Regions from separate parts of the Homo sapiens genome. Here all the other regions are linked to region 2. The links come from fine-mapping of genetic effects on gene expression. A gene starts in region 2. Each other region holds a variant in brackets. All regions are shown on one strand. Distances are between the middles of the regions.

Region 1 (8,109 bases), 120 kb before region 2:
GAAAATGAATTCAGACACTGAGTGGGTCATTGTTTCCAAGACGTTCCAACAGTCCCAATGTCCCCAGCTCCTCCCCTGTCCTCACTCTTCCAACTCAGATGCCCAGGATTTCCACCAAACCGGGAATGTAAGTATCCTTTGGAGTCCTCAGAGACTGAAAATCACTGCATAGATAGAAAGAGAATTGAGATCCATGTTTTCAACCAGTCTCTCCCACATTGGTGGTGCTACACAGCAACATGTATGTGTGCATGGCTGTGTGTGTGTACATAGACTTCTGTAGTCACATATGTCCATGTACAAGCCCATGTCCACATGTGTGTACACACATACATGCAGCAGATAAGAGACAACCGCACTATGGTCGGGCATGGTGGCTTACACCTGTAATCCCAGCACTTTGGGAGGCTCAGGTGGGTAGATCACCTGAGGTCAGGAGTTCGAGGCCAGCCTGACCAACGTGGTGAAACCTCGTCTCTACTAAAAATACAAAAATTAGCTGGGTGTGGTGGCGGGTACCTGTAATCCCAGCTACTCGGGAGGTTGAGGCAGGAGAATCGCTTGAACCCGGGAAGCAGAGGCTGCACTAAGCCAAGATCATGCCATTGCACTCCAGCCTGAGTGACAGAGCGAGACTCTGTCTCAAAAAAAAAGAAGAGAGACAACTGCACTTAACCCTGGGGAGTTCCTCCTTGTCATTAGAGATGAAGACACAAAAATAAGTCATAATACGAGGACTCAAAATCACCAAAAGTAAGGCCAGAAAAGAATTTCTGTGAGACAAGAAATGGGCACCAAGGGGTTTTGAGGAGTGGGAGAGGACGGTCTTTTGGTCTGGACAAATGCAGCAGTGACAGGAAAAGGAAATCTCTGGCTCTGGTGTTGAAAACAAGATACTTCCATAAGAGAACAAATCCTAAGACTGGGGCCGAAAGAGAAACGTTGGCACATGCCAAGGGGAGTTACTTCTCATGCAGAAGGAAATGTTTTGCCAGGCATTGCTTCCCCTAGAAACTGTTGATTTTACTTTTTGTTTCCCAGATTGAAAGCCAAGAAAAAAAAGCTAAAGTGGTGTCTTGGTGCAGATCATGTCAAGACACAAGGGTAGTGTCCACGTTAGAAGGTCACACTCTGTGTCCATACCACTGGGCCAAGCCTTGGGACCATCTGCTTCCCACTACCCTCAAGGTCCTCACCAGCTTGTTGCAGTCCTGGAAGACGTCACTGGTAAGGATTCTACAGGAGGAATCCACCATCGTCTGCTTCATGATGTTGTTATGGCAGGTGGCAGGGGATGAGTCCAGAGGCACCTGGGAACCAGGCAAGAGATAGGCCAGCCGTCAGCTGGTCAAACTGGGGTTATTCAGCCCAGAAGGATCCAAGAGACCCTCCTTCCCACCCTGCAGCCACCTGAAGGTCATACCACCCACAACCCCCCTTCCAGCCCCCATAAGAATGGGGACAGAGGGACATTCCAGGAAGCAAGCTCTCGGGCTCTGTCCACACAGAGACCCAGACGTAGTTTTCTGGTGTCAGCAGACTGCGAGCTCACTTTCCAGGAGTTCCCAAAGTCCACAGGGTCTTCCTCCACTTGGAGGTTGCTGCTGGTGAGGTCACTGTTCTGGATGCCATCAAAATTCCCACACAGGCCACACACTTTCTCCTTGAGAGACAAGTTGAGGGATGAGCACCGTCAAGCCCAGGGGCATGCTCTCTGGCTCAGGGGAAAGGGGAACGTTCCTGGCGGCAATGGAGGCAGAGGGCATTCGAGGGAGAGGAGGAGGAGCGGGACAGAGACTCAGAGGAGGCCCGAGGTGAGCAGCAAAGCCTTGCCATTGCCAAGCCCTATTCCTGAGCTTCCTTGCTGGCCCCATTTTATTTGAAGCTATGGAAACAAAGAGAGGCAACATGCCCATGTCACATAGTCAGCCAAGGGCAGAAGTGGGAATCAGGCAGCCTTGGCCCTGAGATCACTGGTGGGAACTATCGCTGTCCCCAACAAGCGTAGAAGCAGAGAGAGGAGCCAGGTACACTGCTCCACCAATGGAGGTGTAGGGGTCCAAGGAGGGAACGTTATAGAACTGCCTGCCTCTGGGCAGGTGAGTCCCCTTGCCTGGAGAACCGCAGCCTGTTCAGACCAGGCTGGGCAGAATTCTGCTCTATCATAAATGTAACCAGGAAGATATGTCTCACCTGTCTCCATGTTCACCCATCATGGAGTGCAACATGCAACAAGTTCTGAAAAAGTAGTTATGAATGAGTGAGAAACAAGTGAAAACTACACAAAGAGGAGGGATAAGTTCTAGTGTTCTGTAGCACCACAGGGTGACTATAATTATCAACAGTTTATTGTATATTTTCAAGTAGCTGGAAGAGCAGACTTTGAATGTTCCCAACACAAAGAAATGGTAAATGTTTGAGGGAAGAGATATACTAACTACCCTGATTTGATCATTACACACTGTATACATGTATTGAAATATCACACTGTCACCAGTAAATACATACAGTTAAATGTCAACTAAAAATAATAATAAAACAAAAAAAAAACTACAGAAAAAACTGGAAATATTTGGCCTGGAGAAGAAAAGGTGCTATACTTTTACAATATACTTAGAGCCCTGATGTTGAGACAAAGAGAAAAAATGTATTCTATCTTGCTCCAGTTTCCCCAAGCTCTTCTACTCACTCTGGTCTTTCGGCCTTCCTGTTTGAAGGTTCTTTGTGACTACAGTGGGCCCACCTAGATAATTCAGGATAATCTCTCCATTTTAAGGTCAGGTGATTAGCAATCTTAATTCCACCTGCAACCATAATGCTCCCATGCTGCCTAACAACATATTCAAAAGGTCATCCTACTAAGGGTCATTATTCTACCTACACACTAAGTAACTGAGAAAAAAGTAAAGTTATGTATCATGCCTTACCTATGGCAAGGAAATAATAAATTATAATGACTTATCTAAAAAAAAAACTATTTTTAAAAGCTTTGGTCCTAGTCTATTGATTAAAGTTTTGGTATATTCCAGATAAATTTCATGTCCTTGATGCTAACACACTGTGCACAGTAGATGGCCTTTTAAGATATTACTTTATAAGGGAATATTTAAGGTTATCTGGACGATAGAAAAGGAACTTTAGTTGCTATGCCACAAAAGGCCGGATTTCTGCACATTACACCTCCTACCAGTGCATACATGTGCCAAACTCCTTCCTGAAAGCCTGGTTTGTGTTTCCTATGTGCTTAGCAATAGTCTTTACTCTCATGACTGTTTATATGAAGTCCTACTTTTTAAAGCATATCCTCATTTATTTGTTTTCCTGAGCCTACCCTTATTTCCTCCTCTGAACTGGATTTCATCTGGTATATATTGCACAGGTTTGCACACTTGATTGTACGCTACTTTACAGCATCCTCTTGGGTTCTGGACACAGTTATTTTTCTCCATGGTAAGGTGATAAGTGACTTCTCTGAGGACTTGCCACCTTAGTATGCAGTGGTGACATCACCTGCTCAGGCTCTGTCTGCAATGTGGAATTTAGTATTTTCCAACTTCTGGTCTAACTTGAACTTCATAATTAAGCAGAGTCGCCTTTTGAGGGAATAGTAGGGTGTCTGCCCCTAAATGTCTGTGTAAATGCAGAAACACATTTGGGAACATAACTGACTTTTATGTACAGAAGCCAGATGCATTTCATGCCCATGCATGCTTGGGGAAGCAAGTTCATCTCATCTATCACAATAAGCATCTGTTCCACTAAATTCCACTGCAGGATACTTTTCACACTTAGACAACAAAACATTTAAGGAAATAAAAGCTCTTTCCAATAAAAATGTGCATCAAAAACTGTGTGTATTTTTTTTAAAAAAAAAAAACCTTCCTCTATAA[G/A]ATAAGCCACAGGAACTACTAAAAAAGCATTCTTGAAATACATTTTCTGATAGGCATCTACGCCCTTGCCTTATATAAGATTTAAGGAAAGTGATGTGTGTGTCTTTATGCTCGAAAGGCTGCTTTCAACAACAAAGGGTACGCTTTGAGGGATCAATATAGTTTTGAGAATGCAAAAGTTTAAAAGAACTAATGGAATGCATATTATCCAGGTATGAACATGCATTTGTCATTATTTTCCTACCATCTACTATATTAGAAACAGAAGAAAAATTATGGAAATGTCTGTTTTCCCTCAATAGGAATACCTATTTATTAAAGTTAATTAATTACTATTCTTTAAACATTTTCAAAATAGACTCATAAGTGACAACTTTCAGAGAAAATAAGGGTTTTTGGATGTATATATTTACTTATAACATGGATAAAATTAATAATTTTGTTAAAATATTAACTCCATATCAATAATGCTCTCTATTGTTTTTGCATTTTTTTAACAATAGAGAATCTAATACATTTAGTGTTCATGAGTTTCATACAGTTTCCTGTCAATGTACTTTGTCTTTTTTTATTGGACTACTAATCATTTATTTATGATTTGTTGGAACTACTCATATGTTAAATATGTCAAGTGAATTGCAAACACTTGCTGCTGACTTGATATTTGCTTTTTACACATATTCATGGTATCCTCTGAAATAGAAAAGTTTTATATTTTAACAAATTCCAATCCATGAATATTTTTTTTTAAATTTTCTGTTATTGGTTAGTGCTATGTTTAGATATTTAATTTTAACTGTCACGTTGCAAATGATATTTGTCTATGGTATTTTTTCTTTATATTTTGAAAAAAGTGTATTTGACATCCACTCTGGAATTAGTATTATGAATGACATATTATACCTTTGTGCAACTATAAAATACATATAGCCAATTATCTGAACACCATTTTATGAACCATTTATCACTTACCAACTGATTTGAAACACTACCTTTATCATATATTGGATTTTAGGTTTATTGAGATTATGTAACATGAAATTATTTAATTATGAAATTATGTGAATTCAAGCATGACAGTCAGCTCTTCTTCCCCACCACTACCCTGTAAAAGGGTGGATGGAAGAATTGCTTCCTTATGGCTTAAGTGTATGAGTAGTATATAACATGGTCTTGATGAAGTGGGAACTATACAGAAACTGTTTTTGGTCCTGAAATGTACTCCAGCTTTACCAATTTGTTCTGCACATATACCATTGAGGGTAGAAGCTGAATTTTGCTTACGATTATGTTTATACTACTTAACATTGTGCCAGATACTGAGTAGATACTTAGAAACATGTTTAATGATTTGTTTTATTGCTAGATACCTAATTATCTGCTGTAGTGGTGCTACCTCATTCAGAATAATTTTGACCAGTCTTTCTCCATCATGAATAAAACACTTATTTACACACTTGTGTACATGCACATGTGCATACAAACACACCCTTTGCAGAGACAAACTGCATTGAAAGCATGTACAAACATTATCGTATATTTGTTGATTCTGACCCGATTCTGATTCTATAGTATACTTTTTCATTCTGATCACAATAACAATAAAAATAGAAAACTGTAAGTGTGAAGCTGGAAGATGCAGAACATGAAAGATCAAATTACCAATTTTTTTTCTATTTTCTTTAGTTGGCTGATGATGAAATCAGAAAAGTAATGGACATAAAAATGAAAGTATGCAGTGTGTGTGTGTGTATGTACGTATGTATATCACATGCACTCATTTTCATGATGTACATATGGAATTTCACAACCAGCCAAACTAAGCTTCATAAGTGAATGAGAAATAAAATCCTTTACAGACAAACGGATGCTGAGAGATTTGGTCACCATCAGGCCTGCCTTACAAGAGCTCCTAAAGGAAGCACTAAATATGGAAAGGAAAAACCATTACCAGCCACTGCAAAAACACACCAAAATATAAAAACCAATGAAACTAGGAAGAAACTGCTTCAACTAATGTGCAAAATAACCAGCTAGCATCATGATGACAGGATCAAATTCACACATAACAATATTAACTGTAAATATAAATGGGCTAAATGCCCCAATTAAAAGACATAGACTGCCAAATTGGATAAGACTCAATACCCATACGTGTGCTGTATTCAAGGAGACCCATCTCACTTGCAAGGACACACATAGGCTCAAAATAAAGGGATGGAGGAATATTTACCAAGCAAATGGAAAGAAAGAAAAGCTAGTCTCTAATAAAAAAGACTTTAAACCAACAAAGATAAAAAAGGACAAAGAAGGGCATTACATAGTAGTAAAGGGATCGATGCAACAAGAAGAGCTAACTATCCTAAATATATATGCGCCAAATACAGGAGCACCAGGATTCATAAAATGAGTTCTTAGAGACCTACAAGGAGACTTAGACTCCCACACAATAATAGTGGGAAACTTTAACAACCCACTATCAATATTAGACAGATCAACAAGACAGGAAATTAACAAGGATATTCAGACTTGAACTCGGCTCTGGTCCAAGCAGACCTAATAGATATCTACAGAACTCTCCACCGTAAATCAACAGAATATACATTCTTCTCAGCACCACATAGCACTTATTCTAAAATCAACCACATAATTGGAAGTAAAACACTCCTCAGCAAATGAAAAGAATGAAAATCATAACAATCTCTCAAACCACAGTGTAATCAAATTAGAACTCAGAATTAAGAAACTCACTCAAAACTGCACAACTACATGGAAACTGAACAACCTGCTTCTGAATGACTACTGGGTAAATAGCAAAATCAAGGCAGAAATAAATAAGTTCTTTGAAACCAATGAGAACAAAGACACAACATACCAGAATCTCTGGGACACAGGTTAAACAGTGTTTAGAGGGAAATTTATAGCATTAAATGCCCACATCAGAAAGTGGGAGAGATCTAAAATCGACACCCTAACATCACAATCAAAAGAAGCAATGGCAAACACATTCAAAACCTAGCATAAGACAAGAAATAACTAAGATCACAGCAGAACTGAATGGGAGAGAAACACGAAAAAACCTTCAAAAAAATCAATTAATCTAGGAGTGGGTTTTTTGAAAAGATTAACAAAATAGTTAGAACGGTAGCTAGATTAATAAGGAAGAAGAGAGAGAAAAATCAAATAGACACATTAAAAAATGATAAAGGGGATATCACCACTGATGCCACAGAAATACAAACTATTATCAGAGAATACTGTAAACACCTCTACACAAATAAACTAGAAAATCTAGAAGAAATAGATAAATTCCTGGACACATACACCCTCCCAAGACTAAACCAGGAAGAAGTCAAATCCCTGAATAGACCAATAACAAGTTCTGAAATTGAGTCAGTAATTACAGCCTACCAACCAAAAAAAGCCCGGGACCAGACGTACTCACAGCTGAGTTCTGCCAGAGGTACAAAGAGGAGCTGGTACCATTCCTTCTAAAACTATTCTGAACAATAGAAAAAGAGGGACTAACTCATTTTATGAGGCCAGCATCATTCTGATTCCAAAACCTGGCAGAGACCCAATAAAAAAAGAAAATTTCAGGCCAATATTGCTGATGAACATCAATGCGAAAATCCTGAATAAAATATTGGCAAGTGAATCCAGCAGCACAGCAAAAAGCTTATCCACCACGATCAAGTTGGCTTCATGCCTGGCATGCAAGGCTGGTTCAACATACACAAATAAATAAATGTAATCCATCACATAAACAGAACCAATGACAAAAACCGCATGATTATCTCAATAGATGCAGGAAAGGCCTTCAATAAAATTCAACACCCCTCATACTAAAAACTCTCAATAAACTAGGTATTGATGAAACATATCTCAAAATAATAAGAGCTATTTATGACAAATGCATAGCTAATATCATGCTAAATGGCCAAAAGCTGGAAGCATTCCCTTTGAAAACTGGCACAAGAGAAGGATGCCCTCTCTCCCCACTCTTATTCAACATAGTATTGGAAGTTCTGGCCAGGGCAATCAAGCAAGAGAAAGAAATAAAAGGTATGCAAATAGGAAGAGAGGAAATCAAATTGTCTCTGTTTGCAGACGACATGATTGTATATTTACAAAATGCCACCACCTCAGCCCAAAAATTCCTTAACCTGATAAGCAACTTTAGCAAAGTCTCAGGATTTAAAATTAATGTGCAAAAATC
Region 2 (8,109 bases):
ACTCAGCAAGATTTCGAAGGTAAAAAAATAAACACAGCAGAATTTTTTTTTACCTTATTTTTTCTCGCTTCCTTGATGCTAATACAAGAGACAGTGGGAGGGAGTTTCACTGATACGTTCTGCATCAGAATTTAGAATTTCAAAAGATTTTGTTACAAGAATAATCAGAAGAATTAGATTCTAACTCTGTAGGCAGCAGGTATCTAGGAAACCTCGTGCTTCAATTTCATATAAATTGAATTTACACTACATCTTTAAATTTTTTGGACTTCAATATGATTATTTTATGTGAATTTCAGTTCAAACAAACTATGCTATAGCTGTTACATGGAGTTACAGTTTAGTTTTATAACATACTCGTTCTGGGCATTTATTTTTATTATTTTTTGCCACCTAATAAGAAATTTTAAAATCACTATTAAAAACTTTAATAAATACATGACATTCTTACTGTATCTACAAATTAATTTATCAAATGGCTGTGATAGGTGCCACAAAGATATAATAGATCTTATAAAATGACAAAAACTGAAAATGGCAATTTTGTATGTTAATTTTAGACTTTTTTCTTTAATCAAATCTTTGAAAAATGCAATTGACTGTTGAAATAATAAAATATTGTGGTTATATAATTTTAAAAATGCATGTAGCACAGAGGCTGAGAGGGGATAATGGTACATGTTATTTTAGTGTTTTAACATTGTCCATAGAGAAGTGTAATACCTCTTCAAGGTAGGTTGTGGTAAATTTGAGATGTACACTACAAACCTCAAAGCAAGAACTAAAGTAACAGTAACAGCTAAGAAACCAACAAAGGCCATAATAGGAAATTAAAAAAATAAATAAATAATAGAAAAGAAGACAGATAAGAGAAAATGGAACAAGTAACACATGGAGAAAACAGAAAGCTACATCAATCAGCACATTAACTGTAAATGGCTTATATACCACAACTAAAAGGTAAAGCCTATAAGAGAAATAAAAATAGTAAAATCCAGTTATATGTTGTCTCCTGGAAACCCATACTTGACATAAAGACACAATTACTACGGAAGAGATGGAATAAAGCTGTGCACTACTAACCCTAGTGATAAGACTGCTGGAATGGCTATATTAATATCAGACAAAGTAGAGCAAAAAAAATGGAAAATATCAACTGATGCTCAAGTTGTTCTGGTTAGCAGTACAAACTCTGGAACCAGACTTTCTGAGTTACAATACTGTCACTTCTATTTTTTTCTTTTAACTATAAAATAAATGTCCACATTGCTAACAAGCATATTAACTAGCTTATTATGCTTGCTTCCTTTGCTTTTGGTTGTGGTGGGTATTTATTTGTTTATTTTTTAAGACATGATCTGCCCTTGTCACCCAGGTTGGAGTGCAGTGGCGTGACCTAGACTCACTGAAGCCTCAACCTCCAGGACTCAAATGATCCTCCTGCCTTAGCCTCCCAAGTAGCTGGGACCACAGGTGCATGCCACCATGTACACTAATTTTTGTGTTTTTTGAGGAGATGGGGTTTGACCATCTTCCTGGTCTCAAACTCATGAGCTAAAGTGATCCACCTGCCTCAGCCTTCCAGTGTTGGGATTACAAGCATGAGCTACCACACTGCCAGAATCCTGTCATTTCCTTGAATTGCAAAATTAAAACCTCATAAGCTACAGTTTCCACATCTGTACAATGATAACATCATTAGAATCTTCCTGGGGAGATAGCAGTGTAGAGAAAATAATACATCGGCAGCAGGAAGAAGAGTTCGTGGTACACAGTGAAGTTTGGAAAGGTGTTCCTATTGACATCATTATAATCATGACCACCATCATCATTTCTTAGAAACACAGAATTGACAGGACTCACTGATTAAGAGTATTTGACAGTGAAATATGAGAGAAGAGATTGCCTTGGTCAATTCTTGAGTATCCATCTGGTAGAGCTTGGAAAAGTGGTGGAAGCAGAATTTTTGGGAAAAACATTTAAAATAAACTTAAACACCTTACTTTTGATCTGCGTGATGTACAGAACTGGTGATGAACAGGGCAACCTTGTCACTTTAAAATATATCTGATTGCCAATTTGCAGCATCACAAGACTAGTAAACATTTACTGTGAAACATTCAGAAAATACAAATTACCAAAAGAATAGAGTTTACCTATTGCTTAGTTTTCTCCAGCAATGGAGAGATCAATAATAATAAATCTGACACCAATTCAAAATATGAAACTTTAGGGTACTCAAGTACTAAAAGGTTTTTTTTTTTTAATGTAAACAAACTCACAGGTAACAGTGTCCAAAGTAGAACATTAGAAATGAGAGATTCTTGATGTAACAACAGGTCCAGGTGATGATAATTCAAGGCTGCTGAAACAAGTGAATGAAATCTTGAAGGGATCTTAATGATGAGAACTAATTCTTGCTTGTTGGAGTGATGAGACAAATGGTCCAAAAATTAAAAAACAAAACAAAACAACAACAACAACAAAATAATTTGTTGCTTGCAAATAGGCCCTAGAAGCAATATGAAACAGTCTTCAAATGAATAGATGAGAAAAATCGCATCTGACCTAATTAATTCAATGTCACAAAAAGAGAGACAATGTGTTATTTAAAGGGATGAGACAGAAAAAACACTCTTGTAAATAAAGAGAGAAGAGTACAATGAAGTACCCATTTCCACCTACGAGGAACGGGCATGTAAGAAAATACGGGAATCATGTGCAGATGATATAATTACTTATCTAGAGGCACCATAAAAATGTTTTTCCCCAAATAATGTCCATTAGGGATAAAATTTTAAGAAAGAAAGGATGTTACTTTTAAAGACAATTGTTAAATACCTAGTAAATAGAGTAAGTGAGTAAGAAAAGCAGAAAGAAAATAAGTTGCAGCTACCAGATACCCACAAAAAGAAAGAAAAGGGAAAAAGAAGGAATGGAGGGAGAGAGCACAAATGGAAAGAAAAAGGGTGGGAAGGAGGAGGGAGAGTAGAGAGAGAAATTACAGAAGTAGGCGAGGGGTATAAAGGAAAGCATGGAAAGACAACTGCAGAGACATCAGAGTTTCTGGGCCTCAGGATAGGGGAAAAATACATCCAACATTATAAGAAATATATCCCACTCTCTCCCCAGCAATCCATACATCGAATATGATATTAATGCAGATTGCACCTTTCTGGCTGCCCCAACCACTTCCTTCTCCTTTGGACTCACAGAAGGACCTCTATAATTTATTTCTGGAAAACACTTATGAAAATATGCACATATGAAAAGGGCCACAGAGTTTAGAAATGGGTCTTCCAGAGTCTAAAATTCAAGGTAGAAAGTGAAAGTGAAGTCACTGAACAATGGAATTTAGGCATGTGTTTGTGATTAAGTGAACTTGTTTCTTGTACTCACATAGCCAGTGCATCACTGCATCTGAATAACAAAAAATATGGTAGATTTCTGCCCCTTTGAGATTTCACTTAAATACGAAGCACTTTCTCCTTCTGATGTTTAAAAACATGCTGAAATTTGTAATATATTAGTAACAACCACTGTCCCACCCAAATGCTAAGCAGCTGCTTCTCTTCTCTGAAAATCAGAATCAAGAGAGGGAGTTTCTAGGCTCAAGACTCGGGAAAAGCCACCCCTGATATCCAGAGATTTATGTTAAGATCCCCAGCTGAGACAGGCAGAGGTCAAGGTAGGCTGAAGAAGCTGATCTGAGATGGTCGAGGGCTGCTCCTACTTACCTTGCCTATTTGCCACCCTCACAGTTTTGAAACTCGTTCAAAAAGTAAATGCTTTTGTTCACCTCTTTAACAGCACCATTTCTGGTCTCGTTTTCAACACTACGTCCTTTGCTTTGCAGGTAAAATTGCTTATTTTCTTGCCTTTTTATGACTAAAGTAGGCTTGCAGTTTGGAGTCAGGTGACTGCACTAGCTGAGTCATCTTCCCTTGAAAACACCAAGGCATTCTTCCTCCCTACAGAGTCACACATCTTAGTTCCCCAAAACGCTCAGCCACAATTTGACTTCGATTGTCCTACATTTAAGGTGATATTTTTCTGATTCTCCCATTAACTCCCTCTTCTCTTCGCACCCATGGCCCATCTTTTGCTGCTGTCTAGTAGCCATTCATCCCCTCCCATCACAAAAGAAGTCTGTACTTCCTTCAGACAGAGCAACAAGAAAATTCCCCAGAAAGCAAACAATTAAACAAATTTTAATTTTGCCTTTTTTAAATGAAAATTCTGTCAAAATTGATGAACCACATCTGGTAGGAGCACCTGTTTTATTTTCACAAAGAGTTTTCTGATCTGGACATTTTTGTTACTTACTGCTAATATGGAAAATTTTGAACTAAACAAAATACACCCCCAAAACTTAAACTATGTTAAACCAAGACAAGCTTCTAACAATGACACCTCTTTCCAGTATGAGAGAACTGCCTCCTACAGTATAAGAAATATCAAAATCATTATTTTTTTATTCCACACATATTCAACACTTAAAGCCAAGGCATTAGAATTTTAATATACCACCTCTCAAGCATGAACATATAAAAATTCTTACTGTAAATGGGGCATGATTATTTTTCAAAGAGAAGAAATATTTTATTCAATTCTAAGATTAATTCACAAATTTGACTCCTGTTTTATAATGATAACTTTACGTTGCAGGACACAGAGATTATTCCTTAAGAAATATTTTTTAAATAGATATTTGGCTCTTGGAACCAAATAATAAAATTTTCTGCTTAGACATACATACAAATTTACTTTACTTAAAACACTTTCTTGTTATTATTACATTTTTAAATCTCCCACTCTTTGGGATCTCCTTATAAGTAGGTCACTTGCTTTTAAAATCTTACATAATTAACATGTCAGATATTTACAGACATACCAAATGAAAGTATTATTTATTCTATGATATGAATAAAAAATGTTTTGAATAGATACATACATGAATAACTTTTTATTCTGAAATCTAATCAGTTTTATTCATATTTGATTTTATTTTAATTTTTTAAGGTATGTTTCACATAATACAAAATTACATTATTCAAAATTATATTATTAAAACATTTCTATCATCAAACAGGAAACCCCATTATCTACTTAACAGTTCTTTCTATTCCCCAGCCCCTGACAACCATTAACCTACCTTTTGTCTATATGGCCATGTCTTTTTACCATATATGTTTTACACTGCATCAGTTTTCAATCCAACATGCCAAGCTGAGAGAGTTTTTAAAATATTTATTTTTATTTTTTTGCACCGTCCAATTACCAGGCCCTATGCTCCTCGCACCAATCTAGTAAGACTGTGTGTGTCAAGGAGAAAATTATGTTTATTTCAGGGATTGAGGATATTAATTAATTTATTTATTTATTTATTTATTTATTTATTTATTATTTTCTTAAGACAGAGTCTTGCTCTGTTGCCCAGGCTGGAGTGCAGTGGCACAATCTCAGCTCACTGCAGCTTCCGCCTCCTGGGTTCAAACGATTCTTCTGCCTCAGCCTCCCGAGACCTGGGACTACAGGCACATGGACCACACCTGGCTAATTTTTGTATTTTTAGTAGAGACAGGGTGTCACCATGGTGGTCAGGCTGGTCTCGAACTCATGACCTCATGATCCGCCTGTCCCGGCCTCCCAAAGCGCTGGGATTGCAGGCATGAGCCACCATGCCTGGCCCTCCTTATTAATTTAAAAGATTCTGCAGGCATGAAACTTTTGCAGAATAAACTGTGTAAGTAATCATTCTATATTTTATTTTTACCAGATACATTTCTGAGACTGGAAAGTAAACAGTCTTGGCCAAATTTTTATGTTTGTTGCTAGGTGACCAAAGTCCTCTTGTGATGCCATTGCTACTCAGGTTGGAAACCACTGTGGTGATCTCAATTACTTTACCTGAGTAGACTACTGAAGCAGCATTTGAAGCTGCAGTCTTGAAACACATGCAGGCTGGAAAAGTCGCTAAAGAATTACTTATTTGAGATGGCACATGTTTCTGCAGAAACTCAAGATGTTTCTCCTAAAGATGAATCAACTGGTTCAAAAGCCTCCTCTGGGTCTCCATTGTGTGAACACATAATCCCTGGGGATTCAGACTTAAGGTCAATGACTGAATCAATGATTTTCAGGTTTTGCCACAAGGATCCTTGATAAAAAGGCCACATTATACTTTATGTCTCTGAGCCAGATAAAGATAATGATTTTCCTTCTCTGACCTTTCCCAGTAAACTTTGGAAAATAGCTGAAAGTGACCAATTCAAGTCTAATTCATAGGATAAGAATGAAACTTGCATAGTGACTAATGAAGAACTCTTCAAGAAAGAAAATTTGGAAATAAAGGCTCCTTACAGAATATTTCAAACTGACAGTATGAAAATCTTAATTTGACAGCTCAACCTTTATGGATTTAGTAAAATTCAACAGAATTTTCACAGATCTGCTTTTCTAGCCAACTTTCTGGCAGAAGAAAAAGAAATTTCTGTTTTAAGCAAGGTATTCAAAATATTTCAGTTACCACTTTGAGTATATATGTAATTTCATTTTATATATCAGTAACTATGTTAATACATGCAGTAAGATCAGATTTTAAAAATTATATCAAATATTAAGGTAAAAATTACTTAATTTTTTTGAAATTATTGAGTGCAGGTTGAGCATTAAACTTTCAGGTTTTAAGAAATGTTGCTAACAACATTCAGTCTTACCAGTGAACTCCAAATAAAGATACCAAAGCCACTTAGTGAAATGTTACTATTAAATGTATAACATGTTTTCACCAGAGGGCTTCAAAACTTGAGTGTTTTTTTTTCTCAACAAGCATGTTCTTAAAAATAGTAAACAATGTTCATTCATTATTTGATGATATTAACTTTGTGTGATAAAACAGAAATCTGAGATTGTATGGGTTATGTTTGTTATTGTTACTTGCCTCTTGGTTTAAAATGGCACTGAATTACCTTCTCCTTGGTTTTAGTTAAAGTTGTATTATCATCCGAATTTCAAACGTGGCTGTCCCCAACTTTTAATAAGAACGAAAAGAAGAATTAAGATTAAAAACACTTCTCTTGTATCTACTTCACTGAATATTTCAAGAAACACTTTAGAGCAGGGGCTAACACAGATAAACATAATTCTGTCTTAGCTGCTGAAACTAGTGAAGAAAGTTCATTTTCAACATCTACAAATTTAAATATGACTCTAACAAGGAAATCTTCTGTCAGCCAGGGCATTGCTGGTTCACCTGACCCAATTAGAAGTGGTTTCCCTCCTCTTCCATTTCAACCTCAGTTGGACAATCAGAACAAATTACAACAAATCAACATGCTATTTTAAATCAATTGACAAATATTCATATGCACTCTCATAGCACCGACATGTAAGCAAATGGCCACGTTGTGAATTTTGTTACAACCACAGCTTCTCAATACTACATCATATCTCCCTCCTTTGGGGCTGATAGTGAAACCACCTACTTTTTCCCACCAGATATCCTGAGGTATTAGCCAATGAGGCTCCTCATTCTAACCTGCTACCAGCAGGCAACCTGTGGTTGTAAATGACTGCGACAGCTGATACATCAGTTGCCTTTCGTTACAGGCCAGCTCTTCAACCATCTTTACTGGAAAAATATCACCCTAGTTACAACTGATCTTCCACCAAAAGAGTACCAGATTATGCATGACAACAGAGACTGAAATTTATGTTGACAAGAACATTAAAAATTCCTGCAATAATCTTACTGAACAATAAAATTACATGTTGACCTTTATGGTTGCTTTTCCTTTATTTCTAAAAATACAGTTAGGAGTAAAATGGGGCTTTGTTTTAGTGGCAGGCTACTGTACCGCATTTAAAAAAAAATATGTGCTTTTTTATCATTTGATGGGAAATTTGACATGGCCCTTTGTAAGCTAGTTTATTTAATTATCTAAAGAGGAAGAAATAATAGAGTGTTTTAGTCCATTTGCTGCTGCGACAACACAATACCACTGACTGGGTAATTTGTAAGGTGACTTATTTTGCTCATTATTCTGAAGGCTGGAAAGTCCAAGGGGCTGCATCTGGTGAGATCTTCTTTCTATGTTGCAACATGGC
Region 3 (8,109 bases), 180 kb before region 2:
CATTAAGCAGATCATACATCTAGAATGGGTTAAGCAACCATTTGTAAGCATCTTCATAAGAAATGATCACCTCTGGGTTTTTCTGGTAATATTTGAAATAAACATGGAACCAAACTGTATTTCCCTCAGCACATAACTGTCCAAATTGCATGTGCAAGTAGAGGTTTATGTAAAAGCCCTGACAGAACTGTACTCAGTCTTTTGAATTAGATGCATAAGGCTACTGACCACTCTCTATTTTACCAAGGGAAAGAGCAGTGACTTCTCTATTTCAGTACAATTATGGGCAGAAATGACATGATGCAAAATAGAGGTTCTTCCGTACAATTTAAGATGTAGGGTATAAGGGAAGACGAAAAAGCAAAATTCCCAAGAAATCAGAATAACTTCACACTGGTCTTGTACTACAAGAAACCCTGAGATGAACTGTAGTCCTCAAACACCTGTGCTTGGCTCAGGCCCTCCAAGACACTTCAGTGTGCTTCCAACTGGCTCATAATCAACTTCCTGGTATATTCGTAGGCCAAAAAGAGTGCTCCATTGTCAGGGAATGCTCGAATCATAGTAGGTTTCAGTCCAGAATATAAGGCCATTATTCCTAGAAGACAAAAGGGCAAGTAAAGACTGCAACAGTCCCTCCTTTGGGGACACCCACACAACTGCATAGCACAGGTATATTTACACATGCAAATCCAGACAAGTGTGCTAAAAACCAACAAGTCATGGAAGGACGCATTCCCAGCTTTCCCTAAATAGACCAACAGAAACAAGGACAAGTATCAGGTCTCCTGGCGAAACTGACTGATGCTCAGGTAACATACCCCAATTCCATGCTTGGTTAACTCTTAGTACACGGATGGGTCAGCGTTGAGGCCTGAGATGGCCAGACAGATGCAACCATGGAGACAGAGGTGGCCACAGCTTTGCAGCTTCACCTGGGCAGTGGCAAGAGCACCAACCTTGAGGTTGGAGACTGGTTTATAATATTAGTACTGCCCAGGGTGGTTATGAAGATTGAATTAGATAAGGGAGGTATAAGTACTTTGTAAAACTTCACGTTATACAAATTTAAGGGAGGATTACTATGAGTAATAGACAAGTTATCTGTGCTCTATTTGGGACACAAAGTTGCTGTGTTACTGTTCTCTTTCCTTTTACAATCAAAACAGAGCAGTTCACATCTCAGATTTTAAGATGTATACTAGATGCTGGAAAAACAGGTGTTTATTCACCTTCATTTTTCACAACATTTATAAAGGTTCTGATAAATCCTGCCGGTTTTCCAGACATGGAAAGAACTTGAATTCTGGATTTGATACAATCCACTGGATATACCGCAAGCCATAGGCAAATCCCGCCAACTCCCTCCACCACTTAACATCAAAGGGACAGGGCCTAGAGAAAAAAAAAATAGCAAATGGTATTTTATCTCAAGAACAGCTGATGTGACATTTCCAGAGGTCAATGTAGTAATGGCTGCAGGTAGGTGCAAATAGAAATGCTAATGCTGCAGAAGAGTTCTTTGTGGAAACTGTCAAAGCTCTTGTTCCCAGGCTCTAAGAACACAAGGTTTTGTTTGGTAGCCCAGGTCTACGCCTGGGTCTTGCCAAGTACAAGAAGCTCTAGTGAGGGTTGTATTTTGTTTGGTCACTGAGGTGTCGAGGGCTGGCCCACATGAACCAGCAGGCCTCCAGCTGAGTGGCAACCCCTTACGGTGGGGAGAAGACAGGCCAAACACAATCTACGTCTTTTTTTCTTTTTTCAACTTTCTCATTCTTAAGCATTTTAATAGCCCCGATTCTTCCTTTACCATGTTTTTATTAAACATAGCAGTTAAGTCTGGGAGCTTGTCTAATCCCAGAATAGATTCAAAATGCTGAGGGAGATGGTAAGAACAGGTAAATGCATTTGCATTCACAGCAGTGGGGTGTGATGGTGTTTGCTCCCTGCAGGTATGGTTTCTGTGGATTCTCTGCTCTTTGTGCTCTCCTCCCCACATTGGTGGCTCCACCTGGCACAGGGAAGCTTCTGGATTCCAGAAGGTAACATGTTGGCAGGCAGTTGATAGCACCCCACCCTCCAGGCTTGATAATTTCCTTAGGACAGGGGCTGAAGCAGTACATCCCAAACTTTCTTACTGGAATAAGGTTTGTTAATTTTTCTAGATCTATTTTAGAAGAGAAGAAATTCAGAAATGACTTTCCCAGTTGGGGAATCACCTATAAATAATCTTGAAAAAGCTTAAAACTTGGTAATCTCAGTAGCGTTTTGAGAGTAGCGAAAACCATAGTTCTTTGTAGCTTATCATGTTTAGTTGGTTGGTACCACTGCATGCGATGTTTGCCTCACATAAGTGAGTTTTTCTTCCCTGATTTTGTCCTTTGCTAAGGAAACTGAACTGAACTGAAGTCCAGGTCTTCTGTAATAGAGTGTCTCTCCTTCAACAGGGAACAACACTACAGTCGCCCGTAGTTTTGTTTCTGTTCAGTCTCCATTGTGGCATGCCACACTCTCCTGGTTTGGGCCCTGCTCATTTCTTTACTGCCTTCCTGCCTGCCCTTTTTGTGCAGGTAGGTCATCCCATTCATGCTCAGCCCTCCTCGCTGTCTACACTGTCTTCTTGGGCAATCGTATCCAGTCCCAAGCCTTTTAAAAAAACAAGCTATACCCATCCTGGTGGAATTCCTGCCTATAAAAGGGCGCACCTTCAGACCTCCAGGCATGTCCAGCGAACACTGCTATGCACACGGAACCAAATTCAGTTGTGTGGGACCTGCAGCTGCAATTGGGTTTCCAACTTCCATTGCTGATGATCAAGTTAAAATACGAATGTGCTGGATTAAATGCTTTATTCAGCTTATCTGCATCTAGGTTATCTAAATTACACACCCACTTAAAACATTCTGTCACCTCTTCTCTTGGAATAATTAATTATTTTAATGTAATTCAGATCTCATTTTATCCTAGCCCAGCAGTACCTGGGAGAGAATGACTCAATCATAGTAAAATCATATTAAATTATATTCCACTGATTCAGAATTGGAGATAATCTGGCAATTAAAGTGAGAAGTGTGTCATTCCTCTCCTGGAAGAAATGAACAGTAATGATGGGATCACAGAGATCATACATATAAGGGCCCAATACAGGTTCAAAACATGCCCATCGGCAACTGCCTTACATACCTGGCTCCCAACCATACTGTTACAATTTCTATCTTTCAAACTCACTGTAAATTACAAATGTGGTACCCAAATACCTGTATGCACATAAATATGAAAAGGTAAACTCTTTTTTTTTTTTTTTTTTTTAGGTGGATTCTTGCTCTGTCACCCAGGCTGGAGCGTAATGGCACAATCTTCGCTCACTTCAACCTCTGCCTTCTGGGTTCGAGCAATTCTCCTGCCTCAGCCTCCTGAGTAACTGGGATTACAGGCGTGTACCACCACATCTGGCTAATTTTTGTATTTTTAGTAGGGACGGTGTTTTACCATATTGGCCAGGCTGGTCTTGAGCTCCTGAACTCAAGTGATCCACTCGCCTCAGCCTCCCAAAGTGCTGAGATTACAGGCTTGAGCAACCTTGCCCAGCCAAAAGTAAACTTTTTAATTCCATCACAATATGTTCTAGATCTTTGACAGACTGAAAGACATAGAATGTCAAAAGGTGAGACTCTCTCATGTGGCTAAACACCCTCCTACTGCAGATACAGAACTGAGCCCAAGAGCATTCACATGCTGGTGAGAGGTGGTGGCCAGGGGCAGGCAGATGGTTGCACCACTCTCAGGGTCAGCATCCTCCCCAGTGTGGCATGGGGGAGGGGAGGGGAGG[G/A]GGCACGGGGCCTGGGAGGCTGTAGCCTAAAGGCACGCAGCGGGCAAGAGACTACTGGGCGGACCCCTGCCAGCCTTCAGTTCCATGAGCGTCTGGTGCCAGGACGCTCCTTGTGGGCTCTGCCCTGGGAGAAGTGCCCTTGCCCAGTGCTCCTTCTCGGTGTCTGTGACGTGCTGTCTCCAGTCCTCCTCATTAGCATACCTTGGCCGACCTTTGGCTCATGGAAAAACACTTTGCTCTTCTCGGAACAATTTCTTTTTCACAACTGAGCAAATGACTGATGAGGTGACCACACTCATGACCATACTCATCTGTTGGTGGTGGGTGGGGGGTGGACTGGATGAGGACAGCATTGGGCAACACTCTTTCTGGCCTCCCCACTGCAGGGAGCCACAATTACTGTGGGAGGCCAGGGTAGTCCAGGGTTTCCCTTTGGGCCATCAGCATTCCAACTGCTCCTCCTACTTCTGGCCTCTGGAGAACTAAATTACCACCATGCACTTCCCATTCCACCTGTGCCTCAGCCCGAGGGTCCTGCTCTTCCTGCATATTCAAGCTGATCTTTCTAGGGAGTAGCCTGCACTGTGCCAGCACTACCCCCTTGTCACAGGCAGCACCTCCCTGTGCTGGGGGAGCCTCAGTCTGCCCTTGGGCTCAGGCCCCTAGGCTCAGGTTAGCTGACATTCCCAGGAAATCCTACAACTTCTCCTTTCCTTTCATGGCTGTAAGACACAGTCCACTATCAGTCTCATTGTAAAAGACATTTCTAAAGAGTGTCCTCCTTTCTTTCCCAACACTAGCAGGGACAGTAAGTGATGTTTCCTGGGAGATGCTATGGTGTTATTTTTGCACTACAAGGGCTCTGAAGACTGCCAGGCTTGAAATGAAGAACGATGTCACCTGCCTATCACAGCCAGGTGACAATGGACAAGGGGCTTCACCTCTGAGCTGTTTTCCAGCTGCACTGGGCACATTCCTCCCCTCACCCTGACTCACAAGGTGTTAGCAATAATGGACACTTCTCTACCTTCTGCCACACTCTGAACAATGCCACACTTCCATCAAATGGATTCATCCCAAAGGTAAAGCCCATCACTTCTAGAGGGAGAAAGGTAATGTTTTCCTACCACTTTTATTTGATCTCATTTAGAAGGTACTTGAGGAATAGAGAAGACTGGGTTTTCTCTGGGATTATACTTAGGCATTTCTTAACGACTGGGACATGTTCTGAAAAATCTGTCATTACACAATTTCATCATTGTGCTATCATAGAGCATACACACCCGACCCTAGATGGCATAGCCTACTCCACACCTAGGCTGTACAGTATGGCCTGTTGCTCAAGGCTACACACCTGTACAGCATGTTACTGTACTGGATACTGTAGGCAACTGTAACACAGTGGTATTTGTGTATCTAAACGTATATAAACACAGAAAAGGTATAGTAAAAGATGGTATAATTTCATGGGACCACCATCCGATACACCATCCATCACCAACAGAAACATGGTTATGAGGCACAGGACTGTAACTGCAGCCCCTGCCATGAGGTCAATGGCAGCCTGGATAGGGGGATTGGACTTCATGTTTGCCCACTCTTCTGGTCTCATGGAAGGCAGCTCTCTGGAGCTTATGACAGGCACCACATATCCCTGGGGGGAGGCAAGAGTTCACCATTAGTCCAAGTCTGCAGCCTCCCATTCTCTAGGCCTGCAGCCAAATTACTGGACCTAAACTTCTGGGAGCCATGAACTGGGCTCTACATTGTTCCAAAGGAAAGGGGCTCAAGGAATCAGTGCAGCTTAGCAATTGTCCCTTAGAAAGCTCACAGATCAAAAACCTCCCCTGCGTATCAATTCTACAGCCACCAGCAGCACTTCAACTGACCTTTCTGAAAACTGAAAAAATGAACACCAAATAAGTCAACCACAGATGTACTAACCCACATCAGGCTTGCTTTTTTAGAGGCCTGCGCTGAGCCATCAACTGAACAGGCTCACTTCTAAATCAGAAAGCAGCCTGTGCTGCGTGCCTAAGGGAACGTCACAAGACAGTAGGTCTGGAAAGAAGCACCCAGGCAGCCAAGGGTGGGAGCTGCACCCCAGGATCACAAACGCCTTGGTGAATGCCTGCTCTACCTGCAGTGTGGCCCCTTTGGCCTCTACAGCTGGAAGTCTTCATCTGTACAAAGTGAATAATAAAAATATTATAAAACAAAGGCAGTCACAAATAGCCACATTGGTGTTGAGGTGATCAAACCCAACACCAGGCCATGGGGGCTACAAAGTCCGGCAGAGTCAAAGGAATGAGACAAGCTAATAGTACACAAAGTGGGTCCAGGGGGCCAATGCTAGTATAGAGGCTGTGAAGGCCCTGAACTCTGGGAGCCCACACCATTTATTGGAGATTAAACAAAGAAGCAGGTGGTGAGGACGTGCTGGTCAAAAGGAAGCAGTCACATCAAGTGTTTAGTTTATAGCTGTGTCGGTCTAGCATTTTCTTTGAAGCATATGGAACATGTTCTGCTACTCGAGATAATGAACATTTCCTTCTGCCTCAAGGTACAATCAGTTTATGATCCTGGGAGAGCAAGAAGCAAGGAGCCAGCAAGTCTGGACACATTCCAGAGGCCACGAGGGGTTTTATGTCCTGAGTCCTGGATTCCATCCAAGCCATGAGGGGTTTTATGCCCTAGGCTTAGGTTGTAGTGCGGCGGGGCAGCCTTCCACCCTTAAGCACAGAACCTGGTGTTCCATAGGCCACAAGAAGTTTTAAACTCTGGACCCAGGACATGTTCCAAGGCTCTTTTCATATTATGTCAGACTAGCAAGTCTTGCCTCAGCTTTTCTCCCAACAATTGGACTGATGGGTTGCTCCACTGGGCACAAGCATCATGGGTTCTTAAAACAAGGCCCTGAACAAGCACCAAATATGTTCCTGTCACCACACTCCACTAGCCCTTCAACTATAAACATGCATAGGAGTCACCTGGGGGCCTTGCTAAATAAAATGCAGCTTCTGATTCAATAGTCTCAAACAGGACCAGAGATTCTGCGTCTCTTGTTGAGTTCCCGAGTGAGGCAGACAATGCCAGTCCACAGACTCACATTTTGAGATACAGCACCTGGGCCATTGTGTTCCAATGTGCTTGATAACCTGGAGCACCTATTAAATATCCAAGTTGCCAGGACTTTCTTCTGGAAATCTTAATTCAGTATGTTTTGTTTGGAGCCTTGGACGTTTGGGAAAACTAGAATTTCTTTCTCTCCCTTTAGACAAAAGTCAACTACTGCTGAGGCATGGGCTTAATAAATGTTGACTAAAATATCCAACTCAACAACCAATCCTGTATAATTTTCAAACTCTGTCAATAACTTGCTGGGTCCAACCTGCAGACCCTGGCTGCGTGATGGATGAAGAAATGCACTCAGACACAGGTATCCTGTGAAAGAATGGGGTAGGGGACTGGGCAGCTCCCAGACACTGAGGAGGGTGCTATAAAGAGTCAGCAGGTGCTATAAAGAGTCACCAGGCACAGCCCTGTCAGGCTGGGGCTCCAGGCATTTATTCAGTACAGATTTAATGACAAAGTTCTCAAGTAAACACCACACCACTAGAGGGTAATTAACATTGCTGACCTCCTGAGTAGAGAGCAGTCATGCGCCCGCAAATGATCAAAGGTCTGTTTTAGGACCACATGAGTAAACAAGCTATTTAGATAAACTTCTCTACATTCCTATGTATCTACGCCCTAAGCTTTTAAGAGAATTCAGCTGCCTTCAGCCAAATCTTTTACTGAAGGTATGCAAACCTCCCAGCCTTCCAAGAAGTTTTGTGTCTATCTCCTACAACTTAATTTTTATAATTTCTCCCACCACCCTGACAGATCCCCTACAAAAGACCATGTTTCTTCTCAGCTTGCTCAGTCCAGCTGAGCCAGCTTTCCACTGGACTCCTGAATGTGAGAAGGACACAGGCTCCCAGGACCATCCAGAAGCATCTCTCATCACCTTAAAGCTCTGAAACACTGGCTGGGTGCAGAGGCTCACACAAGTAATCCCAACACATTAAGAGGCTGAGGTGGGAGGATTGCTTGAGGCCAGGAATTCAAGACCAGCCTAGGCAGCATAGCAAGACCCCATCTCTACAAAAAGTACACCCCAAAATTACCTGGGTGTGGTGGCACATGCCTATAGTCTCAATTAGGAGGCTGAGGTGGGACTATTCTTTGATCCCAGGAGTTTGAGGCTGCAGTGGGGTATGATCGCACCACCGCAC
Region 4 (8,109 bases), 42 kb before region 2:
TAACTTTTAACCCAATTAAATGTAATGACAGCATAAAATATAAACTTGCTTAAATTTACCTTGCTTTTTAATGTTTAGGCGGCGTTCAGCCTGTTTAGTAAGATTTCATACAAGGCTGCGTCCATCATTATTATGAGAGCCATTCTCTCTTTCATTTAATAACGAATAGTTGGCTGGTCACAGTGGCTCATGCTTGTAATCCCAGCCCTTTGGGAGGCTGAGGCGGGTGGATCACAAGGATGAAGACCATCCTTGCTAATACAGTGAAGCCTTGTCTCTACCAAAAATACAAAAAATCAGCCGAGCGTGGTGGCGCATGCCTGCAATCCCAGCTACTCAGGAGGCTGAGGCAGGAGAATGGCTTGAACCGGGGAAGCTGGGAGGCAGAGGTTGCGGTGAGCCTAGATCACACCATTGCATTATAGCCTGGACATCAAGAGTGAAACTCCTTCTCAAAAAAAAAAAAAAAGAAAAGAAAAGAAAAGAAAAAATAATGATACAGGGAGATAATAAATAAGTAAATAAGTGTTTTACGAAGCTGTAAAATCTAAAGTAAAGGTAAAGATGGTCATAGATAGGAGCAGGAAAAATTACACAAATCCACATGAGCTTAATTTTTGGTGGTGATTTCTCATCAGAAAAAAAAACATAAAAGAAAGTATGAATAAGAAAATTGTCCACATTGCTTTGGTAGAAAAAAGTAGGAGGAAAAACAAAAACAACAAAATAATGAGAATTATACAATATTAAGCTTTAGTGTTCTTCATTTATCATGGTGATTGTTTCCCCAAGAAATAACAGAAGCAAAATAGTCAAAATAGAAGGACACATAGGCATATATTACTGTCTACGTATATCAAGCCAAGTTTAATTTTAATTCATTCTTTCAGAAATTTTATTTTAAATTAACAATTGTAAAGATTTATGGGACACAAAGTGATTTTATAATACATGTATACAATGCAAAATAAGTTGGGCTAGTTAACATATACATCACCTCACACACTTATCATTTCGTTGTGGTGAGAATATTTAAACTCTACTTTTCCAACTTTTTTTTTCAGATGGAGTTTCGCTTTTGTCGCCCAGGCTGGAGTGCAGTGGCACAAGCTTGGCTCACTGCAACCTCCACTGTCCGGGTTCAAGTGATTCTTCTGCCTCAGCTTCCTGAGTAGCTGTGACTATAGGTGTGTGCCACCAAACCTGGCTAGTTCTTGTATTTTCCGTAGAGACGGTGTTTCACCATGCTGGCCAGGCTGGTCTTGAACCCCTGACCTCTAGTGATCTGCCTGCCATGGCCGCCCAAAGTCCTGGGATTACAGGCATGAGGCACCATGCCTGCCTTTTTCAGCAATTTTGAAGTGTACATTTTTTAACTGTGATCACCATTCTGTGCAACAGATCACCAGAACTACTTCCGGCCTCACAGAAATTTTTTACCCTTTGACAAATGTCATCCCTTCCGTATGTATTCCTATCACTACCCCACACTCCAATCTCTGACTACTTTCTGTGTATTTGTATAAAGAGTCACGATCTTGCTGTGTTGCCCAGGCTGGAGTGAAGCGGCACAACTATGGCTCACTGTGGCCTCAAACACCTGAACTCAAGTGATCCAACCGCCTCATCCTCCCAAAGTGCTGGAGATAACAGACATGAGTCACCACACTTAGCATATTCACTATTTTTATGAGTTCAACGTTTTTAGATTTTACATGTAATTGTGACCATGCTATATTTGTTTTTCTGTGCCTGTCTTATTTCACTGAGCATGTTTTCCAATTCCATTCATTTTATCATAAATAAATAACAGCACTTTCTCTTTTTTTAAGGCTGTATAGTATATTCCATTGTGTATATGTGCCACGCTTTATCTGCTGATCTGTTGATGAGCACTTGGGTTGTTTCCTTATCTTGGCTATTGTGAATAATGCTGACATGAATATAGGTATGCAAATATCTCTCTGAAATACGAATTTATATCATTTGAGTACATATTCAGAAGTAGAGTAGCTGGACCATGTTGTAATTCTATTTTTAATTTAATTTTTGAAACCTCAGTTCTATCACCCCAGAAGCACAGGCTACAAAAGCACAAGAAAAACAGCAATTGGATTGCATCACATCAAACTAGAAAGTTTCTGCACAGCAAAGGAAACAATTAGCAGAGAGGGTGAAGGGACAACCCCTACACTGGGAGAAAATGTCTGCAAATCATATATATGATAAATGGTGAATAATAAATACATACAAGAAACTCACACCACTTAACAACAACAAATCAAGTAAGCCTATTAAAAATGGGCAAAGGACCTGAATTTACATTTCTCAAAAAAAGACAAAAATGGTCAAGTCTATGTTTAACTATGTTTAATTTTATTTATTCATTTATTTTATTTATTTATTTTGAGATGGAGCCTCACTCTGTCACCCACGCTGGAGTGCAGTGGCGCGATCTCACCTCCCCACAACCTGTGCCTCCCAGGTTCCAGCGATTCTCCTGCCTCAGCCTCCTGAGTAGCTGGGACTATAGATGCATGCCAACACGCCCAGCTAATTTTTATTGTATTTTTAGTAGAGACGGGGTTTCTTCATGTTAGTGAGGATGGTCTCCATCTCCTGACCTCATGACCTGCCCATCTTGGCCTTCCAAAGTGCTGGGATTACAGGCGTGAGCCATCAAGCCCGGCCTTATTTATTTATTTATTTATTTATTTATTTATTTATTTATTTATTTTTTTGGAGACAGAGTCTCACTTTGTCACCCAGGCTGGAGTGCAGTGGTGCGATCTTGGCTCACTGAAACCTCCATCACCTAGGTTCAAGCAATTCTCCTGCCTCAGCCTCCCTAGTAGCTGGAATTACAGGTGTGTGCTACTGTGCCTGGCCAATTTTTGAACAACTGTATATTTAATGATGCTTCACCACCAATCATCAGGGAAATGGTAATTAAAACCAACAATGCACCTTCTCTCAAAATGTTAGAACAGCTATTATCATGAAGATGAAAGATGACAAGTGTTATTGAGAATGTAGAGCAAAGAGAATCCTTGTGCACTGTTGGTAGGAATGTAAATTCGTATTTCAAATTATTAACATGATTATTTATTTTTAATTGAAAAGTTTTTGTGCCTTGAGATGCATTAATATGAGTTGCTTTCTGTTAGTCAAAGTTCAATGAGAAATGCCTTAGTTACCCTAAATTAAGATAAATAGGAGCAGTCTCATAAGACTTGCCTTTCAGATTCTCCTTAAGTACAGAATAAAACCTGTGGTAAATACTCTTTCTGAAGAAAACATGTTCACTGATAATGTATACGCTACAAAAACTTGTTAAAGGCATTCCAAAAACGTACTAGGTGAAAAATGCATTACGGTTATTTTTCCTGCTCAGTTTTTGGATCCAGATGGATTTTTTATTTTGTTTTATTTAATGAATTGTATAATTATAGTTAAGAAAACAAAAATTACTAAGGCACGTTCACAGGAGAACATAAATGAATTTTATTAGAAACCACTTCCAAGATTTTGCTGTGTATATTTTTTAAATTTAAGAGCCTCTTAACAAGTCACATTCAGCATCTTTACTCATTGTTCTGTGAAAGTATATATGTATATTTTATGAACATGTCATACTTTTTCTGATTGAAAAATATCCAACCCTATTGCAGGAGTGACAGTAATTCCTCAGCTGCTTATTTTTATTCTTTTCAGTTTTCTCGATGTTTACATAATAGTACGGTGCTTCTGGCTGATTTTCAGTACGTCCTGGCAACACTTTGCCTGACTGCCATGGGTACAAATACTGATAGAAGAGGAGCATAAAGCCAGTGGCCAATAGGTAGCTTATGATGAGCTGCACGGCAATTAATGAGTCACAACAATTCAGCAAAGTTTTCCCTCCAAAGAACCTAAATACCAATATCATTATCACATTTTCTAAAAACTGAAAGCTGTAGTGTAGGATTCTATGGCCCCACCTCTGTCTCCCGTCAATTATTTTGTCATCTGACA[A/G]CTGCAGTTTCACTGCTGACCAGCAGGAGAAGTTGATGGCAGCATATAGCAGTGTGATCAAGAAAAGCATCAGTACTGTACCCACCATATTGGAATTATTTTCTTTGTTGCCAGGAAGATGAGCTCCACTTTTCCAAAACTCCAGCCACGGTGCCAACAATGATACAAAATATATGATTAACAAAACGGGTAGGCTCTTCAGTTTCAGAGATGCAATGAAAAATGCCAGAGTCACTACACGTGAGATAACCTCCAAAAAACGCCACATCACGACACAGAAGAATTCTATCGGCGGTAGCTTAATGGTAGTATCATCATTGCTGATCTGGATGGCCAGTATATTGCAGCGAATGGCCCCATAAGTAACTGATAACAGGGAAAATGTCATCAGCAATGCTATTAAAGACAAACATGAAAATGTTAGAGAATATTTTTCATTAGTAATGACCACTTTCTTTTTTAAACTTGCCATTTTAAGATATATTCTTCCTCACCCACCTCCTTTAGAAAATCATTTACTTATAAAAAGAAAGGTTTGTTAATCTTCCATTTTCAGGGATACAGTAAGTATAGGCATGCAAAACATATATTACACCTTGGAAAAACAAATAATAAGCAAATACATACATATCTACATTTATACATGTATATACACATTCCCTCAAAGAGAAGACTGGCACAGATAAAATGGAAGAGACACATTCAGATCTGATGCTATAAGGTGTGACAGCACATATAAAGCAGTCTCAATTAAAAAAAAATACCTGAATTAGACACTGAAAAGACAGTTCCATTCTTTATAGAAAGTTAAGAGTGTTAACTAGGAAGTTAGCATGTGAAATAGGAGACTAATGTAATATAGACTGTGTTTTAGACTATGGTGGTAACAGAAAAGAAGAAATAAGCTGTGGAGTTAAAGTAAATCCTGGAAGTGGAGCTGACAGATTCTGCTGAGTGATGGAATACAAGGTACTAGAGAAGCAGAAAAAAATAAAAAGCTACAGAAATTAAGAAGTATGTGTGGCCGGGCGCGGTGGCTCACGCCTGTAATCCCAGCACTTTAGGAGGCCGAGGCGGGCGGATCACGAGGTCAGGAGATTGAGACCATCCTGGCTAACACGGTGAAACCCAGTCTCTACTAAAAATACAAAAAATTAGCCGGGCGTAGTGGTGGGAGCTTGTAGTCCCAGCTACTCGGGAGGCTGAGGAAGGAGAACGGCATGAACCCGGGAGGCGGAGCTTGCAGTGAGCTGAGATCGTGCCACTGCACTCCAGCCTGGGCGACAGAGCGAGACTCCATCTCAAAAAAACAAACAAAAAAAAAGAAGTGTGTGTGTGCATGTGTGTGATTGTATGTATCCATGCAACTTTATGAGAAACTTTTTCATAAGCAAAATTATTTTAATTTCAACATTGTTCTCTCAACAATTAGACAAATAAGCACATGGAAGAAAACCAAAATTATGAAGTAGTTGAATAATTGGTTTAAGCACTTTTGTACTACATTCAGTTGAAAGAGAAAAAATTCATTTTACATATACATGCAGGTTAAAAAAAAATACACTCTTCAGCTGGGCATAGTGGCTCACACCTGTAATCCCAGCACTTTGGGATGCTGAGGTGGGTGTATCAAGAGGTCAGGAGATCAAGACCATTCTGGGTGACACAGTGAAACCCCATCTCTACTGAAAATACAAAAAATTAGCCGGGCATAGACCCAGATACTCGAGAGGCTGAGGCAGGGCAATTACTTGAACCCAGGAGGCAGAGGTTGCAGTGAACCAGGATAGCGCCACTGGACTCCAGCCTGGGCGACAGAGCGAGACTCCATCTCAAAAAACAAACAAACAAATAAACACTAACAAAAAACACTCTTCATACACAATGAACTTAAGCCAGAAAACAAAAAAAGGCCAAATAGCAAAATAGTCATTCCTCGTCTAAATTTATTATTCACTTTCTAACACCATTTAGAAAATGAATATTAACACTCCATTTATTCCTTAAGGAATACTCAAAGTGAAACTCTAAAACATTAGCATTGTAACTGCATTTATGAGAAATGAGACTGAATATAATAAATGACCTAAAAATTAAATGTTCGAAAGTAAAATTTGGCCAGGTATGGTGACTCATACCTGTAATCCTACCTTTAGGAGGCTGAGGTGAATGGATCACTAGAGCCCAGGAGTTCAAGATCAACCTGGGCAACATGGTGAAAACCTGTATCTACAAAACGCGTGCACACACACACACACACAAATACACAAATTTAGCCAGGCATGGTGGCACATGCCTGTAGTCCCAGCTATTCAGGAGGCTGCAGTGGGAGGATTGCTTGAGCCCAGGAAGAAAACATAGGACTTTCACTTGGGTCTTTATTTTTCTGTGCCTTCACCCCAGCACTTTGGGAGGATGATATCAAGGGGCAAACTTCTAGACACATCCCGACAACAGATGAGAAACTGTGGGCTCAGCAGGATGGAGTCGAGTTCCAGTCAACATTCCTACTGGTTGACTGAATAAACCTCAGAGGGAAGACCATGGCAGCTGCATGCCTTGAGTGCATCCAGTGCTCTACTGTGGGCTACAGGTGCAACCTGGCACTGAGTCAGCTTTGGTGGTCAAATTACTTCAGCCATCAAAGTCTAGGCATTAGGATTCCCCCTACTTCTACCAGGGCTGAAGCTATCATAGACTTAAAGACCTTAATTTCCTTCTTCTTCTTGCCCTGAATCTCTGGACAGGCTTACTGTAGAAAGAAGCTTCCAAACAGAGCCCAGACATGAACACTGAATCAGGCACCTATATCATTGTGCAGATAACAATGCATAGTCACAAAGATCAGGATCAATGACGAGAACATCATGGCACCAAGTGGACAAAATAAGGTGCCAGTTGTGAGTGACCCGAAAGAGATGGGCATGGACACATAGCCTGACAAAAAATTCAAATACTTATTTTAAGACAATGTAGTGGACTTAAGGAAAACACAAACAATTCAGAAATTTATCAGAGAACCTTAGCAAGGAGATTGAAATAATGGGAGGAAAAAACTAATAAAAAAGTTGAAGATAAAAACACAATAAAATAAAAAAAATACAGTTGAGAGTATTGACAGAAGTGGCCAAGCAGAAAAACTCAAGGACAGATCAATTAAAAATATACAGTCAGAAGAAAAAAAAAAGAAATCTAGAAAGTTCATAGGATTTATGTGATAACATCCAAAGAACAAATGTATTAGTCACTGGTGTTCAAGGAAAAGCTGGGTGCAATGGCTCACACCTGTAATCGCAGCTATTTGGGAGGCGGAGGCGGGTGGATCACATGTGGTCAGGAGTTTCAGAGCAGAGTGCCCAACATGGTGAAACTGTGTCTCTACTAAAAATACAAAAATTAGTCAGGTGTGGTTGGTGGACGCCTGTAATCCCAGCCACTCAAGAGGCTGAGGCAGGATAATCACGGAACCCAGGACACGGAGGTTGCATTGAGCCAAGATCACGCCATTGCACTCCAGCCTAGGCAACAAGAGCAAAACTCCGTCTCAAATTAAAAAAAAAAAAAATAAGCGTATTGTAGGAAAAAAAAGTAAAAAGTCTATTTAGAGAAATAACAACAAAAAATTTTCCAAATCTAAATAAAAATATAAATATTCAGGTAAAGGAATATTGAAGTCTTCCAATAAGATTAAATCCAAATAATATCGCCATGGCTTAATATAATCAAACCAACAAATATCAAAGACAAAGACAGCATACAGAATTAAGCAGGATAAAAAAGAAAATATCATATCAGGAATATACATATATATTTATATGCATATATATAATGTAAATATTAATAGATGCAAAGGGAGAAAAAAACTACAAGGTACTAATAGAAAACTTCAGCACCTTACTTTCAGAAATGAATAGATCATGCAGACAGAAAATCAGTAAGTAAACATCAGATTAAAATGCACTGTAGGGCAAATGGACAAAACAGTTACAGAACTATCCATCCAAGAGTTATAGAATACACATTCTTTACTGCATACATGGAACATTTTCCTGGATATATCATACATTAGGCCAAAAAACACATCTTGATGAATTC

Evidence for each region.
Region 1: its variant is fine-mapped to the expression of XKR3 in whole blood (INTERVAL, PIP above 0.99).
Region 3: its variant is fine-mapped to the expression of XKR3 in whole blood (Lepik 2017, PIP 0.95).
Region 4: its variant is fine-mapped to the expression of XKR3 in whole blood (INTERVAL, PIP above 0.99).

What each region holds. Positions count from the first base shown.
Region 1 is chr22:16,702,797-16,710,905 of GRCh38, forward strand. It overlaps the pseudogene VWFP1. Among named protein-coding and RNA genes, the nearest start is that of LINC01665, 42 kb to the right of the region's middle. The variant G/A (reference allele first, on the strand shown) is at 3,891.
Region 2 is chr22:16,821,554-16,829,662 of GRCh38, forward strand. It overlaps XKR3 (XK related 3), which reads right to left and starts at 3,858. Exons shown (of 4, transcript NM_001386955.1): 1 at 3,738-3,858. It also overlaps the pseudogene HSFY1P1.
Region 3 is chr22:16,645,216-16,653,324 of GRCh38, forward strand. It overlaps the pseudogene TPTEP1 and the pseudogene SLC25A15P5. Among named protein-coding and RNA genes, the nearest start is that of CCT8L2, 56 kb to the left of the region's middle. The variant G/A (reference allele first, on the strand shown) is at 3,830.
Region 4 is chr22:16,780,000-16,788,108 of GRCh38, forward strand. XKR3 (XK related 3) reads right to left here. Exons shown (of 4, transcript NM_001386955.1): 4 at 3,481-4,410. The coding sequence ends at 3,620. Among named protein-coding and RNA genes, the nearest start is that of LINC01665, 36 kb to the left of the region's middle. The variant A/G (reference allele first, on the strand shown) is at 4,015.